Linked DNA regions of Homo sapiens. The protein of the gene in region 1 purifies or fractionates together with the protein of each later gene. This does not show direct contact. Each region holds a gene or a part of one and is shown on either strand. Other genes may lie near its edges.

Region 1 (3,500 bases):
GGAGGCGGAGGTTGCAGTAAGCCAAGATCACGCCACTGCACTCCAGCCTGGGTGACAGAGAGACACTCCATCTCAAAAAAAAAAACAAAACTAAAAATATTGTTGGAATCAATAGGACTAAAAAACAACAACGCAAACATGAACATGAGAATATAAAATACTGAAAGGTACTGATATTGACCAAATATGCACTTACCCTTAAGAAAACTAACATTCCTTCTGTACATATTTGGCTGAAACAAGAGTTTTTCTCTGCTTGAAATACAGCTAAGTAACATCTCTATCCCAGGGAAAACATGTAAAACCCAAAACACTAATGCCAGCTAGCTACCAAGTACTACTGTTTTAGTCAGCATGACCAAATCTTCCTAAGGAAGTCTGTTAGAAACCCTTCAATTTCTCACAGAAGCCTACTGTTAACAGATTTGGATGGCCATATACTTGTGGTATTTTTAGTGATACAAATGCTACATTTAAGTTCCAGGTTCACTCTTCTAGAAAAAAGCGGAGGAGTAGACAACAAATAGGTAAACACAGCCAGCAATAAGCAATGTGTCTTCAAGAAATGTCTTCAAAAACAAATGTATTTCCCCCCCACTCACCGAATTAAGTTAGGTTCCACTCAACTATTAATCATTGCTAATCTAGCGGATGCAAAGACACTGCATTTCTGCCAAAGCATTTTCAGTCTTTTAAAATTAGGTTGTTTCGCCGGGCATGGTGGCTCATGCCTGTAATCCCAGCGCTTTGGGAGGCTGAGGCAGGCAGATCCTGAGGTCAAGAGATCAAGACCATCCTGGCCAACATGGTGAAACCCCGTCTCTACTAAAAATACAAAAATTAGCTGGGCATGGTGACGCGCGCCTGTAGTCCCAGCTACTTGGGAGGCTGAGGCAGGAGAATCGCTTGAACCTGGGAGGCGGAGGTTGCAGTGAGCTGAGATCGCACCACTGCACTCCAGCCTGGCGACAGAAACTCTGTCTCAAATTAAAAAAATAAAATAAAATAAAATAAAATAAAATGTTGCTTATTTCATTTTGACTGTCTCCCAAGGAAAAAAACACAAGAGAATATCATAGAAGGGATCTATATGTTCCTCTGACTCTACAAAATTTTTGTACTGTTTAGAATTTCAATCAATGAAGAAAAACATGTAATGCACACATACAAACATATAATGCTCTCTATAAGCCAACTAAAAGCGTGCATGTGTCTCTGGGAATATTATATGTTTATATTTGCATGCTACGCTACCATATTGTGTCTCCAATTTTTTCTAAACTTATTTTTACCATTACTGACTAAATTATGTGAGTAGAGATTCATCTGCTTTTTTTTTTTTTTTTTTTTTTTTTTTTTTTTTTTTTTTTCAGATAGAGTTTCACTCTTGTTGCCCAGGATGGAGTGCAATTATTGCAATCGCGGCTCACCTCAACCTCCTCCTCCTGGGTTCAAGCAATTCTCCTGCCTCAGCCTCCCAAGTAGCTGGGATTACAGGCATGTGACACCACGCCCAGCTAATTTTGTATTTTTAGTAGAGAAAGGGTTTCTCCATGTTGGTCAGGCTGGTCTCGAACTCCCGACCTCAGGTGATCCGCCTGCCTCAGCCTCCCAAAGTGCTAGGATTACAGGCGTGATCCACTGCGCCTGGCCTTTTTCTTTCTTTTTTTTTTTTTTTGAGACGCAGTCTCATTCTGTCGCCCAGGCTGGAGTGCAGTGGCGTGACTTTGGCTCACTATAACCTCTGCCTCCCAGGTTCAAGCGATTCTCCTGCCTCAGCCTCCCGAGTAGCTGGGATTATAGGTGCATGCCACCACGCCTGGCTAATTTTTGTATTTTTAGTAGGGACGGGGTTTCACCACGCTGGCCAGGCTGGTCTCAAACTCCTGACCTCAGGAGATCTGCCCGCCTTGGCCTCCCAAAGTGCTTGGGATTATAGGCATAAGCCACCACGCCCAGCCTCCTCTACTCTCTTAAGAGAACATGAGATATGCTGTTTTACCTAAGAATCCAAAAGGAATCACTAGAAAGAAGCACTTCTTACTGAAACTCCTTTTAGTGTTTTAGTCTTAGCACACTCTTCTCTATTCCCATACCCTAAAGTTAACAATTTTTACAGCCTTAATGAACTACTCTATCAAGAAACAAATATCCTAAGAATACTTTTTAGACTTCCTTAAAACACTAAGCAGCATGGCTGTGCGCATTGGCTCACGCCTGTAATCCCAGCACTTTAGGAGGCCGAGGCTGGCGGATCACCTGAGGTCAGGAGTTGGAGACCAACCTGGCCAACATGGTAAAGCCCTGTCTCTACTAAAAAAACACAAAAATTAGCCAGATGTGATGGTGGGCGCTTGTAATTCCAGCTACTCTCAGGAGGCTGAGGCAGGAGAATAGCTTGAACCCGAGAGGCAGAGGTTGCAGTGAACCGAGATCGCTCCACTGCACTCCAGCCTGGGCAACAAAACAAGACTCTGTCTCAAAAAAAAACAAAAAACAAAGCAGCTTTACAAATGCTACACTTAAGACTTAGGCATTTTACTGTATATAAATTTTACTCCTCACCCCTCCAAAAAAAAAAAAAGGGTAATCCAGCTAATGGTAAACATGTTAAAGTGTTTAGAATGAAGTATACTGATGTCTACAACTTACTTTGAAATAAATGAAAATAAAAGATAGATTAATGGACAGGTAGATAGATTACAAAATACATGGCTTTTTTTTTTTTTTTTTTAAGACTGAGTCTTACTCTGTCTCTGTCACCTAGGCTGGAGTGCAATGGCACGATCTCAGCTCACTGCAACCTCTGCCTCCCGGGCTCAACTGATTCTCCTGCCTCAGCCTTCCGAGTAGCTGGGACTACAGGCGCACGCCACCACACCCAACTAATTTTTTATATTTTTATAGAGACAGCATTTCACCACATTGGCCACGCTGGTCTCAAACTCCCTACCTCGTGATCCGCCCACCTCGGCCTCCCAAAGTGCTGAGATTACAGGTGTGAGCCACTCCTGGCCCAATTTTTTTTTTTTTTGAGACAGGGTCTCACTCTGTTGCTCAGGCTGGAGTGCAGTGGTGTGATCACAGCTCACTGCAGCCTTGACTTCCTAGGCTCAAGCAATCCTCCCACCTCAGCCTCCCAGGCAGTGGGGACTACAGATGTGCACCACCGCGACCAGCTAATTTTTTTTTTTTTCCTGTAGAGAACGGGGCCTCACTATGTTGCCCAGCCTGGATACAGCAAATATTTATTGTAGAATCTTGCTGTTACATATATGGGTGTTCACTACAACCTTTCTGTGCTGGAAAATTTTTTATAATAAAATGGAGGAGGAAACATTAAGAACTCCAGCCCTTGACAGCTAGGAACACTCTGCAGCTTGATGTACTCACACCATTTATGAATTGTAACTTTAAGTCAGCAAAAATTACACTGAAATACAAAAGCCATGCATGAGCCAGGCGTGGTGGCTCATGCCTGTAATCCCAGCACTTTGGGA
Region 2 (3,500 bases), about 36 Mb from region 1:
CAGCCTGGGCTCTGTCACGGTGAGGGTGGGCCTTGCGGGGAGGAGGCAACTGTCATGCCCGCCCTGCTCTCTGGCTGGGCCTGGGCTGCCCACCTGCCGCTTGAGTGGCCCCTGGGCAGGATAGGCTAATGCCAGGCCCCTTTCCTATCTCAAATGCTTTCCATGCAGGTCCTGTGCTGTGTGGACAAACAGGGGATCCTGTCATGGCCAAATCCCAGCCCAGAGACTGTACTGTTCTTCAGCGGGAAGGTGGAGCCCCCTCACAGCAGCCATGAGGACCTCACCGATGGCCTATCCACCCGCTCCTTCTGCCATCCCGAGGTAGAGGAGGAGGTACGGCCGGCTCCCATGGGCCCGACTCTGGGCCAGGCTGTTTAGCCTTGGAGCCTGGCCAGGGAGGGTGAGGTTTCGGAGGGCGAAGGAGGGTTTGGGCACCATTAGGATCTGCTTCTGGGCAGGTGAGGTGAAGACAAGGCAGCCAGGGGACCTAGAAGCATCCTGCCTCCCCAGGCCATGGGAGCCACTGGTCCTAGCCTGTGCTCCTCATTCTCTTCAGCCCCATGAACGAGACGCCCTCCTGGCTGGCTCCCTGAACAACACCCTGCACCTTTCCAATGAGCAGGAGCGTGGCGACTGGCCTGGCGAGGCTCCCAAGCCCCCCGAGCCCTATTCACACCACAAAGCGCATGGCCGCAGCAAACACCCATCTGGCTCCAACGTGAGCTTCAGCAGGGACACCGAGGGTGGTGAAGAAGAGCCCAGCAAGGTGACGGGAGGGGGTGGCACGGGGCAGCCACACCCTCGGCCACAGGCTGTCCTGGCCTCCCTGGCCAGCCTGGCCTCACAAGGTCTGAAAGAGCAGGCGTCTCTGCCCTCTGTCCCAGCACCTCCAGGCTAGGCCAGTGGTCCCTGAGGCCCTCCCCAAGTCTGCTGCGAAGTAGGTGGAGCCTCCCCCTACCCTTCCATTCTTGTAATCGCAATCACTGGTGTCCCTACTGGAACCTTCCAAATATACACAGCCCGGAGCTCCCTCTTAGAGATGTTCCCTGGCCACAGAAGATCCCTCAACTGTGTCCTCTTTGGTCTGGCCACCCCTCTTTTTAGCTCCTGCCAGTGTCATGAGATATATTAATAGTCCATAGAAGCAGACAGGAGCCCAAGAAGGACAGGAAGCGGATTTCAGGAGGGAGCGGGTGGAAGAGGGTGAGCAGCAGCTCTCTCCTGGGAAGGGTGCCTTTCAGGGGCAGGAGCCCTCCCCAGCCTTGGGAGGTGGGCAGAGCCAGTGCTGGCTTCCCCACACCCTATCCCGGGCTGAGGCTCTCCTCCACATTTCCCCCAGACCCAGCCTGGGATGGAGAGCGACCCCTACGAAGCAGAGGACTTTGTGTGTGACTACCACCTGGAGATGCTGAGCCTGTCCCAGGACCAGCAGAACCCCTCCTGCATCCAGTTTGATGACTCCAACTGGCAGCTGCACCTCACCTCCCTCAAACCCCTGGGCCTCAATGTGCTGCTGAACCTGTGTGATGCCAGCGTCACCGAGCGCCTGTGCCGATTCTCCGACCACCTGTGCAACATCGCCCTGCAAGAGAGCCACAGCGCCGTGCTGCCCGTCCATGTGCCCTGGGGCCTCTGCGAGCTTGCCCGCCTCATTGGTACAGGTCCCCATGGCAGGGGATGGCTGGCTGGACCCGCCTCCTAGAAGAGGCCCAGTACCAACTCCTCACGGGACTTAATGGACCTGGCAGGGTATTGCCAGGGCATGGCCCTAAGTTCCTGTTCCCCGCCCTGCAGGCTTCACTCCTGGGGCCAAGGAGCTTTTCAAGCAGGAGAACCATCTGGCGCTGTACCGCCTCCCCAGTGCCGAGACAATGAAGGAGACATCGCTGGGGCGGCTCTCCTGTGTCACCAAGCGGCGGCCTCCCCTCAGCCACATGATCAGCCTCTTCATTAAAGACACCACCACCAGTGAGCCCTGGCTACGTTGGCCAGCACCAGGCGAGACCTTCCAGAGCTTGGCAGGGGGGCTCTGCCCAGCCCCACCCATTGCTAGGGAGGCCTGGGCAGATGAAAAGTAGACTGCTTCCAAGTGTTCCACTCTGGCAGGGCTGGAATTGGGGACCAGGGCTGGGATGGTGTTGGCTGCAGAGGCCGGGATTGTCCAAAGGATGGGAATATGGTGTCTGCATTCCAAGCCCAGTGGCATTGCAGAGCCTTGCTGTCCGTGAGTCCCAGGGAGTCTCCTCCTCTGGCAGGGGCTCCTCAGCGCCCTTCTCCAGGAGGACAGTGCGTTGCCTGTCAGGTCAGCGTGAGGGGGCTGGTTAGCGACACTCAGGGTTTGAACTCTCTCCCCCAGGCACAGAGCAGATGCTGTCCCATGGCACCGCTGATGTGGTCTTAGAGGCCTGCACAGACTTCTGGGACGGAGCTGACATCTACCCTCTCTCGGGATCTGACAGGTGGGTGAGGAAGCACATGCCAGCAGCAAGAGCAGTCGCGCTGCCGGGGCACCTGCCCTTCACAGGCAGGAACACTCACCTCACCTCCGCCTGCTTCCCTGGCAGAAAGAAAGTGCTGGACTTCTACCAGCGAGCCTGCCTGTCTGGGTATTGCTCTGCCTTCGCCTACAAGCCCATGAACTGCGCCCTGTCCTCTCAGCTCAATGGCAAGTGCATCGAGCTGGTACAGGTGCCCGGCCAAAGCAGCATCTTCACCATGTGCGAGCTGCCCAGCACCATCCCCATCAAGCAGAACGCCCGCCGCAGCAGCTGGAGCTCTGACGGTACCTCATGGGTCTGTCCAGCGGGGCTGGTGCTGGGGCTCCCCTGGGCTGCCGAAGCCCAGGAGCAGGGAGGGCGTCTGGAGGGCCCCGGCACCCCCCACAGCAAAGGGGGCAGTGGCCACAGCCCCAGGCTGGGACGCCAGTGTGGCACTCTATCCGGGGACATGGGGAGTCCCTTAGTTTCCTCCCTTATCAGTGGGTGCTCACTTGGCCTGCCTCACTGGTTGGTTGTGATGCTCAAGTGGGTTACGTGTATCAGAATGCTTTCCTGGGAAGTTACCAAGCAGCGTTCCTAGAGCATTAGGCTTAGTAGGATCAGACAGGAGATCAGGTCTGTCACCCTGCTGGTGCAGAGGGGCCCAGAAGCTCCACCACGCCACCCCATTCCCACCAGACACGCACACTTCCCAGGTTTTTTGAACCCAAGAGACTGTGAATTGAAACAGTTGCTGAGGGTAGGGCCAGTACCCCCTGGGCAGGAGCTGAAGCCACGCCTTGTTGTAGCTTCCAGCTCAGATTCGGCTACCTGACTGATGCATACCTTTCACTGTCTTTTCTCCTGTGTCTGTCGGCTCCTTCGTGTGTCTTGGCTGTGTGTGGTCCCCTGGGGCCCATATGCTCATTGATTTGGGTGTGGCATCTGTGTGTGTGGCCCTGGGCTGGTTCCTGGGTGTCCTGATCGGGCTGTGTCCTGTGTGTCCTGCCTGAAGAAGGGATC
Region 3 (3,500 bases), 690 kb from region 1:
TTAAAAAGAAAGAAATTCTGGCCAGGTGTGGTGGCTCACGCCTGTAATCCCAGCACTCTGGGAGGCCGAGGCAGGCAGATCACGAGGTCAGGAGATCGAAACCATCCTGGTCAACATGGTGAAACCCCGTCTCCACTAAAAAAATACAAAAATTAGCTGGGCGTGGCAGCACGCGCCTGTAGTCCCAGCTACTTGGGAGGCTGAAGCAGGAGAATCGCTTGAACCCGGGAGGCGGAGGTTGCAGTGAGCCGAGATCGCACCACTGCACTCCAGCCTGGCAACAGAGCGAGACTCTGTCTCAAAACAAATAAATAAATAATAAAAAGAAAAAAATTCTGACACATGATACAGTATGGATGAACCCTGAAGACATTATGCTAAGCAAAATAACAGAGTCACAAAAGGACAACTGCTGTTTGCTTCCTTTTTTTTTTTTTATTTTTTGAGATGGAGTTTCATTCATAACATGTTGCCCAAGCTGGAGGGTCACCGCAACCTCCGCCTCCTGGGTTCAAGCGATTCTCTTGCCTCAGCCTCCCAAGTAGCTGGGATTACAGGCGTGCACCACCATGCCCGGCTAATTTTGTATTTTCAGTAGAGACTGGGTTTCTCCATGTTGGTCAGGCTGGTCTCAAACTCCTGACCTCAGAAGATCCGCCCACCTCAGCCTCCCAAAGTGCTGGGATTACAGGCATGAGCCACCTCGCTTGGCTGTTTGCTTCCTCTTATGTGAAGTTCCTAGAGTAGTCAACTTCATAGGGGCAGAAAATTGAACACTGATTGCCAGGGGTTAGGGAGGGGGAATTGGGAATTAGTATTTAATGGGTATAGAGTTTCAGCTGGGAAAGATAAAAGTTCAGAGATGAATGGTAGTGCTGGTTGCATAACAATGTGAATATACTTAATGCCACTCAACTATATATCAAAATGGTTAAGGTGCGTGCCTATAGTCCCAGCTACTTGGGAGGCTGAGGTAGGAGAATCACTTGAACCCAGGAGGCGGAGGTTGCAGTGAGCCGAGATCGTGCCACTGCACTGCACTCCAGCCTGGGGACAGAACGAGAATCTCCTAAAAAAAAACAAAACAAACAAACAAACAAAAAAAACACCTATTATTATATGTATTTTACCACAATTAAAAAAAATTTTTTTTCCCAAGTTTGTTTGTAGGATTTGGTTTTAACGAGCAGCCTCTCAATTTATTAAAAGAGAAGGAGACGCTGAGTTATCAAGTGGTCCAGATAACATTTTCACTATTTAGCACCTGTCCTCCCCAGATTACAAACAGAAGTTTGCTAGGTAAGTGGAGAATCAGAGCCAGAGCCAGAGAAGAACCTGATTAGTGGATTTTTGTTTTTTGAGACAGGGTCTTGCTCTGTCACCCAGGCTGGAGCACAGTGGCATGATCACAGCTCATGTTGCCTTGATCTGCCAGGCTCCAGTGATCCTCCTGCCTCACCCTTCCAAGGTGCTGGGATTACAAGAGTAAGCCACCATGCTTAGCCAACTTTTTCGGTTTTTGTTTTGAGACAATGTCTTGCTCTGTTGCCCAGGCTGGAGTGTAGTGGTGAGACCACAGCTCACTGCAGCCTCATCTCCCGGGCTCAAACAATCCTTTCGCCTCAGCCTCCCAAGTAGCTGGGACTACAGGTGTGTGCCCCTACGCCTGGCTAAATTTTTTAATTTTTAGTAGAGATGAGGTCTTGCTATGTTGCCTAGGCTGGTATTGAACTGCTGAGCTCAAGCGATCCTCCCACCTCAGCCTCCCAAAATGTTGGGGTTACAGGACCTTAATAGCTGGGTTCCTACAGCTCTGATGGCCAGATGCCCTCTCCATTGTAGGGACAACAGCAGAAGGGAGTTTGAAAAAGGTGTTGGAATGAATTAGTGAAAAGGGAAAAGCATTCTAAACTAAATTACAAAGGTCCTACTGGCGCCAACTATGCTCCGTCAGGTGGAATGATCATTTGCACTTGCTTTAGGTGCCCATAAGTGCCCACGCTGCTCAAATCACCACCCTTTTGTCCATACTCCTGGAAAGTACTGAATTCCATTCTTCTTAAGGTTTAAGAGGCGCCTACTCTAGGTACAGAAGGAGCCTTGCAGGTGAAAATGAAGGTTAGTAAGTACCTCAACGTCCCGCTTCAGTTTCTCCAGGAAGTTCTTTTTACTCTCCTCTCCCACATGCAGCTTCTGCCCTTCATTGAGGAAGTCATTGTCTTTGAATGTTGGCAAGTCCTTGGCCTAGGAGAGCAACAGCAGTTAGGCTGGGTAAGCCTGATTAATTCACCCCAGGGACACCCAACTGTTCTGCCGGGAGCAACTATACAGAAAGGGGAAGGAGGGGTTGTCAGTGTACCGACCCTCAACCTGCTAAATCAGCAGTGCAGGAGCCTCTAGTCCCAGGCTTTGGGTGGGCAGGGAGGGCAAACACATGAAAGATGAGGAATGACTAAAGGATTCTTTCCTGTTGAGCCTGGACCAGCTCAGGGCTCAGGCAGCCACTGACTGACTCAGGCTGGACTATGAGATAGAAATGTCTGCCATCCCAGCAGGACTATGAAGAACGTAGTGAGGGCAGAGGTAAAAGACCAGAGACCAAGGTCTAGGCCTAGCACAAGGACAGACAGGTGATTCATGACACACGGCATTTCATGTTGACAGACGGCATGTCTGGGAGCTGGGCTAGGGGCTGGGGTGGGCGAGGGACAGGATGGCCGACAGGAGTTGTTTCTGACTCCAAGCGACCCTTCCATTCCTGCTCAGCACCAGCATACCTTCTCCTTGTCGCTCGCTTCTCTGGCAACCGTAGAACCCTGAAAGGATAAGAGCCATCAGGGGAAGTCAAGCTGAGGCAAAGTCGACTGCATGAGCAAACATGGGAGAGCCAGCAGGTGAACTCAAGTAGGCTTGTTAGAGTCCTAGAGGGGCCAGGAGGCAGCACCTTGTTCATTTACTGTGTCAAGCCCACTTATAGAGCTCTATGTGCAAGACACTTTTTAGGTGCTCAGCAAACAGGACTGCACTGGAGAAGCTCAGTCCCTGCCCTTGAGCTACTTTCCTTCTAACAGGGGAGACAGATATTCAGCAGTGGTTCCACAAGTCATTAGTTCATTCACTACCACGGTGCTCAGTGGTACAGGGAGGAGCAGGACACTCTGAAAGCACATACCACACGGGCCCGGCCTGGGGAGGGACAGTGGCCAGGGCCTACCTACTTCCTGGAAGTAGTATTTGGGCTGAGCTCAGAAGGGTAAGGAGGAAGCAATTAGGTGGGGGAAGGAGTGGGTGGAGAGAGAGAAGGAGACTATTCCAGACAGCAGATGTGAAATCCTGGGAAGAGGAGCACAGGCACTGCAGGAACACAGAGGAAACCAGCCCAGTTGCAGCACAGAGGGAAGGGATGGCGGCATAAGGTGACAGAAGTCAGAAGCCAGGTTCAAGAACACGGAGCACCCTAGTTCACAGCCACAAGTGTGTCCTTCTCAGAGTCTAGAGAT
Region 4 (3,500 bases), on another chromosome or scaffold:
TGATCAGTTAATCAAATAACTTGGTTAAATTAGAGGATCACTAAAAATAATACAAACTGTAAACATTTTAAGATAAAACATATAAACAAACATTCATTCCTGTCTTTTAATGTAAGGCTAAGACCTCTTCTTTGTGTAAAAGTCAACTGTTTAGTCATCTTTTTTTGCATAAGCCACATTCATCTCTGATTTCCAGTTTGGGTTGCTTTAAAAAGTACGAACAAAGAATCCTCTATTTTTTACAGTCTTTTCTCCACCTAATTCAAGAGCTATTTTTAGTAACCATTTCCATGTCTTTACATTCACTCATTTATATAAGGTTTAAATAAAATATAGTAAGAAATACAGTTGACATAAGCAGATTTGGGAATAAACACAACTGCCTCTTGGTAAAGTATATCAGCCAACTGATGGGAAACTCCAGACACACTGGAGAGTAGTCTTACCCAGAGGAGTATTTACGAATACGCTTTATGGAAGGATGCAGAACGCTGAGGATTGCAATGAGTCACTTAACGGAGGTTGTTAAGACAGCTTCAACTGTATTGACCTCTCCTCCTAATTTTTGGACTACTCAGTAATCTGTATCCCCCTTTCCTAGCCAGATTTATTTCCCACTTCTATTCAACAAGAATCTTCCTTTCAATCACATATGAATGAAATTCATTCAATTGAAATACATTCAATTACATCAATACATACTCTGTTCTTTTGCTTTTATCAAGTTTGTCCTAGTCACCTGAAAATTTTTTCTTCCTTTTTCTCTCTGCCTTTGTAAATTTTACCATCCTCCAGGCCCAGGATAAAGGTTTCTCATGACAAGCCCACGCTTCATTATCTCCCTCTTCTATGAACTTAAGTCTGTATCAAGCATTTATCCCTTTATTATATTGTAATCCTTCATTATCCCCCTTTTCCTGCATTAATTTTTCCCCTTTCTACTGGATTATTCCTATTAGCACACAAATAGGTTCTGTATCTTTTCATTTATTTTTTAAGTACTAAAACTACTTCTCAAACACCACAGTATTTTTCCTCCCCCCTTCATAGCCATACATCTTGAAACAGTTGCCTATTCATACTCTTTCTACTTCCTCACTTCCCATGTACTTTCTCTTTAAATCACTACAGGATGGGATTCCACCCTCATCATGCCTCTTGTCACAACCCCCATGTTGTCCAATCCAATAATTTTTCTGTCTTCTTACTTGACCTCAGTGACATCTGACAATTGAGCTTCCTTCCTCTTTCTAGAAACTTCCTCTCTTGCCTTCTAAGACATTATGTTCCCCATTTTTCTCCCACCCACTGGCTCACAATCTCAGTTTCCTTCCTCTAGTCCTCCTCTTCTAATAAACCTCTTAATATCAAGTTTTTTCAAGGATTCATCCTGTTTCTCTCCCTTCCCCTAAGTCACAGGTTTGCAAAAAAGACAGAACCAACTCCTAAAGCTTTGCAAAAAAGACAGAACCAACTCCAACTCCTAAAGAAGCTTTAGACATTTCTAGCAGTGGTTTTGGGGAAAATAGTAATTGCATTAAGTGAGGAAGGGCCAGAGATGCCAGGTATTCTTCAATGCAAGAGAGTTCCCAACAATGAAGACTTTTACCATGTCATGATTTTCAAATGTGCCACTAGATAATCACATGGGTAAGAAACCTACCTAGAAGACCAGGTGTGGTGGCTCATGCCTGTAATCCCCGCACTTTGGGAGGCCAATGTGGGTGGATCACCTGAGGTCAGGTGTTCAAGACCAGTCTGGGCAACATGGTGAAACCCTGTCTCTACAAAAATACAAAAAATTAGCCAGGCATGGTGGTGCACTGGTAGTCCCAGCTACTCAGGAGGCTGAGGCAGGAGAATCGCTTGAACCTGAGAGGCAGAGTTTACAGTGAGCTGAGATCACGCCATTGCACTCCAACCTGGGCAACAAGAGCGAAGCTCCGTCTCAAAAAAAAAAAAAAAAAAGAGAAAAAAAACCCTACCTAGAACCTCAGTTTTACAGATAGAAGTATTACAATCGGGTTTCAATGTACATAATTGTCAAGAACTACAACCATCATGTAAATCAAGAGGCAACTCTGCTTTTTCCCATGAGTTGACTATTTTGAAAAATCAGATAACCAATGGCAATGAAGATCTGAGATGCCAAAACTACACAACTGTCTCACTCTGTTTGAGAAGCAGTCACATTCACGTGGTTTTAACATAGGCGAGGCACTCCCTATTCTGTGTCCCAGCTTTATTTTCTCCATATATTATTCTTAAGTAATTTTTGGTATATGCTAAAATCTAGAGAAAACTAGACCATCCAGCATACTGTATCTTTTACTTACTTACCTTATTTATGAACTCTCTCCTCCCACTAAAATGTAAGTTCCGTGAATGAAGTTTTTTTAAATTTATTGCTATATCCCCAGCATCCAGTACAGTGTCTAATACATACAAAGGCTGAATTCATTGATTCATCTGATTACTTCATGTTTTCTATTATGGTCATGAAAAAGTACTTCCATATTAAAATAATAACAACAGGCCAGGCGCGGTGGCTCACATCTGTAATCCCAGCACTTTGGGAGACCAAGGCAGGTGGATCACCTGAGGTCAGGAGTTCAAGACCAGCCTGGCCAACATGGCGAAACCCCGTCGCTACTAAAAATACAAAAATTAGCTGGGCGCGGAGGCAAGCACCTGTAATCCCAGCTACTCTGGAGGCTGAGGCAGGACAATCGCTTGAACCCAGGTGACGGAAGTTGCAGTGAGCCAAGATCGTGCCACTACACTCCAGCCTGGGTGAAAGAGCAAGACTCTATCTCAAAAAAATAATAATGATAACAACAAAAACAAATACTTCTATTTGTTATAGTTAAACCGTGGTACTGATTTTTTAATTGTAAGGATATATTAACTAAAAAATATCATGCCAGGATAGAAAGGGTAGATTCCAAAATACCAGCTATCTAAAGGGAGTCCTGGGTCTCACAGTTGAGAAACACTGGCTTGTGTGCTCATTTTTAACTCAGACCTCTTTTTTTTGAATGCCATAGTCATAAATCACTTCCTTAACATCTCCAATTAAAGACCCTAAAGACATCACAAACCTAACATGCTCAAATGGAAAATGATCCTCCTCAATCTTTACCATCCCCCTGGAGTATCAGAAAACCCAATACTTCAGAAAGCTAGGAGTCATCTTTTAATCTATCTTCAAAATATACCTGGAATTCATCCACTTGTCCGCATTACCAAATCCATCACCTTGGATAACATTACCTGTTATTTGAACTATTATAGAATCTCCTAACTGCCTGATTTCTACTCTTTCCCCTTCAATCCATTCTCCATATAACAGTGCTCATCTTAACAAGGGCTTCTCAATGAATTTAGGGTAAAATTCAAACTCTTAATCATGGCCTTAGTCCTTGCAAGACTGGTTCTTTGATTAACTCTCCAACTTTATCTTATACTACTCTTCCCTTCACTGACTACGTGCCAGCCAC

The links. Proteins that work in one complex are often made in the same cells at the same time.
Region 2: the proteins of CDK12 (region 1) and TMEM94 purify together in Homo sapiens (affinity purification with mass spectrometry, with the first as the bait; one large-scale study listed by BioGRID). This does not show direct contact.
Region 3: the proteins of CDK12 (region 1) and PIP4K2B purify together in Homo sapiens (affinity purification with mass spectrometry, with the first as the bait; one large-scale study listed by BioGRID). This does not show direct contact.
Region 4: the proteins of CDK12 (region 1) and C2CD5 purify together in Homo sapiens (affinity purification with mass spectrometry, with the first as the bait; one large-scale study listed by BioGRID). This does not show direct contact.

What each region holds. Positions count from the first base shown.
Region 1 is NC_000017.11:39,464,486-39,467,985, reverse strand, and holds part of CDK12 (cyclin-dependent kinase 12), read right to left. Parts: intron 1-3,500. UniProt on the Homo sapiens protein: Cyclin-dependent kinase that phosphorylates the C-terminal domain (CTD) of the large subunit of RNA polymerase II (POLR2A), thereby acting as a key regulator of transcription elongation.
Region 2 is NC_000017.11:75,491,135-75,494,634, forward strand, and holds part of TMEM94 (transmembrane protein 94), read left to right. Parts: coding exon 1-19; intron 20-168; coding exon 169-321; coding exon of another isoform or gene 322-333; intron 334-556; coding exon 557-766; intron 767-1,339; coding exon 1,340-1,655; intron 1,656-1,794; coding exon 1,795-1,968; coding exon of another isoform or gene 1,969-1,998; intron 1,999-2,356; coding exon 2,357-2,459; intron 2,460-2,564; coding exon 2,565-2,782; intron 2,783-3,492; coding exon 3,493-3,500. UniProt on the Homo sapiens protein: Could function in the uptake of Mg(2+) from the cytosol into the endoplasmic reticulum and regulate intracellular Mg(2+) homeostasis.
Region 3 is NC_000017.11:38,775,557-38,779,056, forward strand, and holds part of PIP4K2B (phosphatidylinositol 5-phosphate 4-kinase type-2 beta), read right to left. Parts: intron 2,817-3,500; coding exon 2,778-2,816; intron 2,245-2,777; coding exon 2,131-2,244; intron 1-2,130. UniProt on the Homo sapiens protein: Participates in the biosynthesis of phosphatidylinositol 4,5-bisphosphate. Preferentially utilizes GTP, rather than ATP, for PI(5)P phosphorylation and its activity reflects changes in direct proportion to the physiological GTP concentration.
Region 4 is NC_000012.12:22,538,043-22,541,542, forward strand, and holds part of C2CD5 (C2 domain-containing protein 5), read right to left. Parts: intron 1-3,500. UniProt on the Homo sapiens protein: Required for insulin-stimulated glucose transport and glucose transporter SLC2A4/GLUT4 translocation from intracellular glucose storage vesicle (GSV) to the plasma membrane (PM) in adipocytes.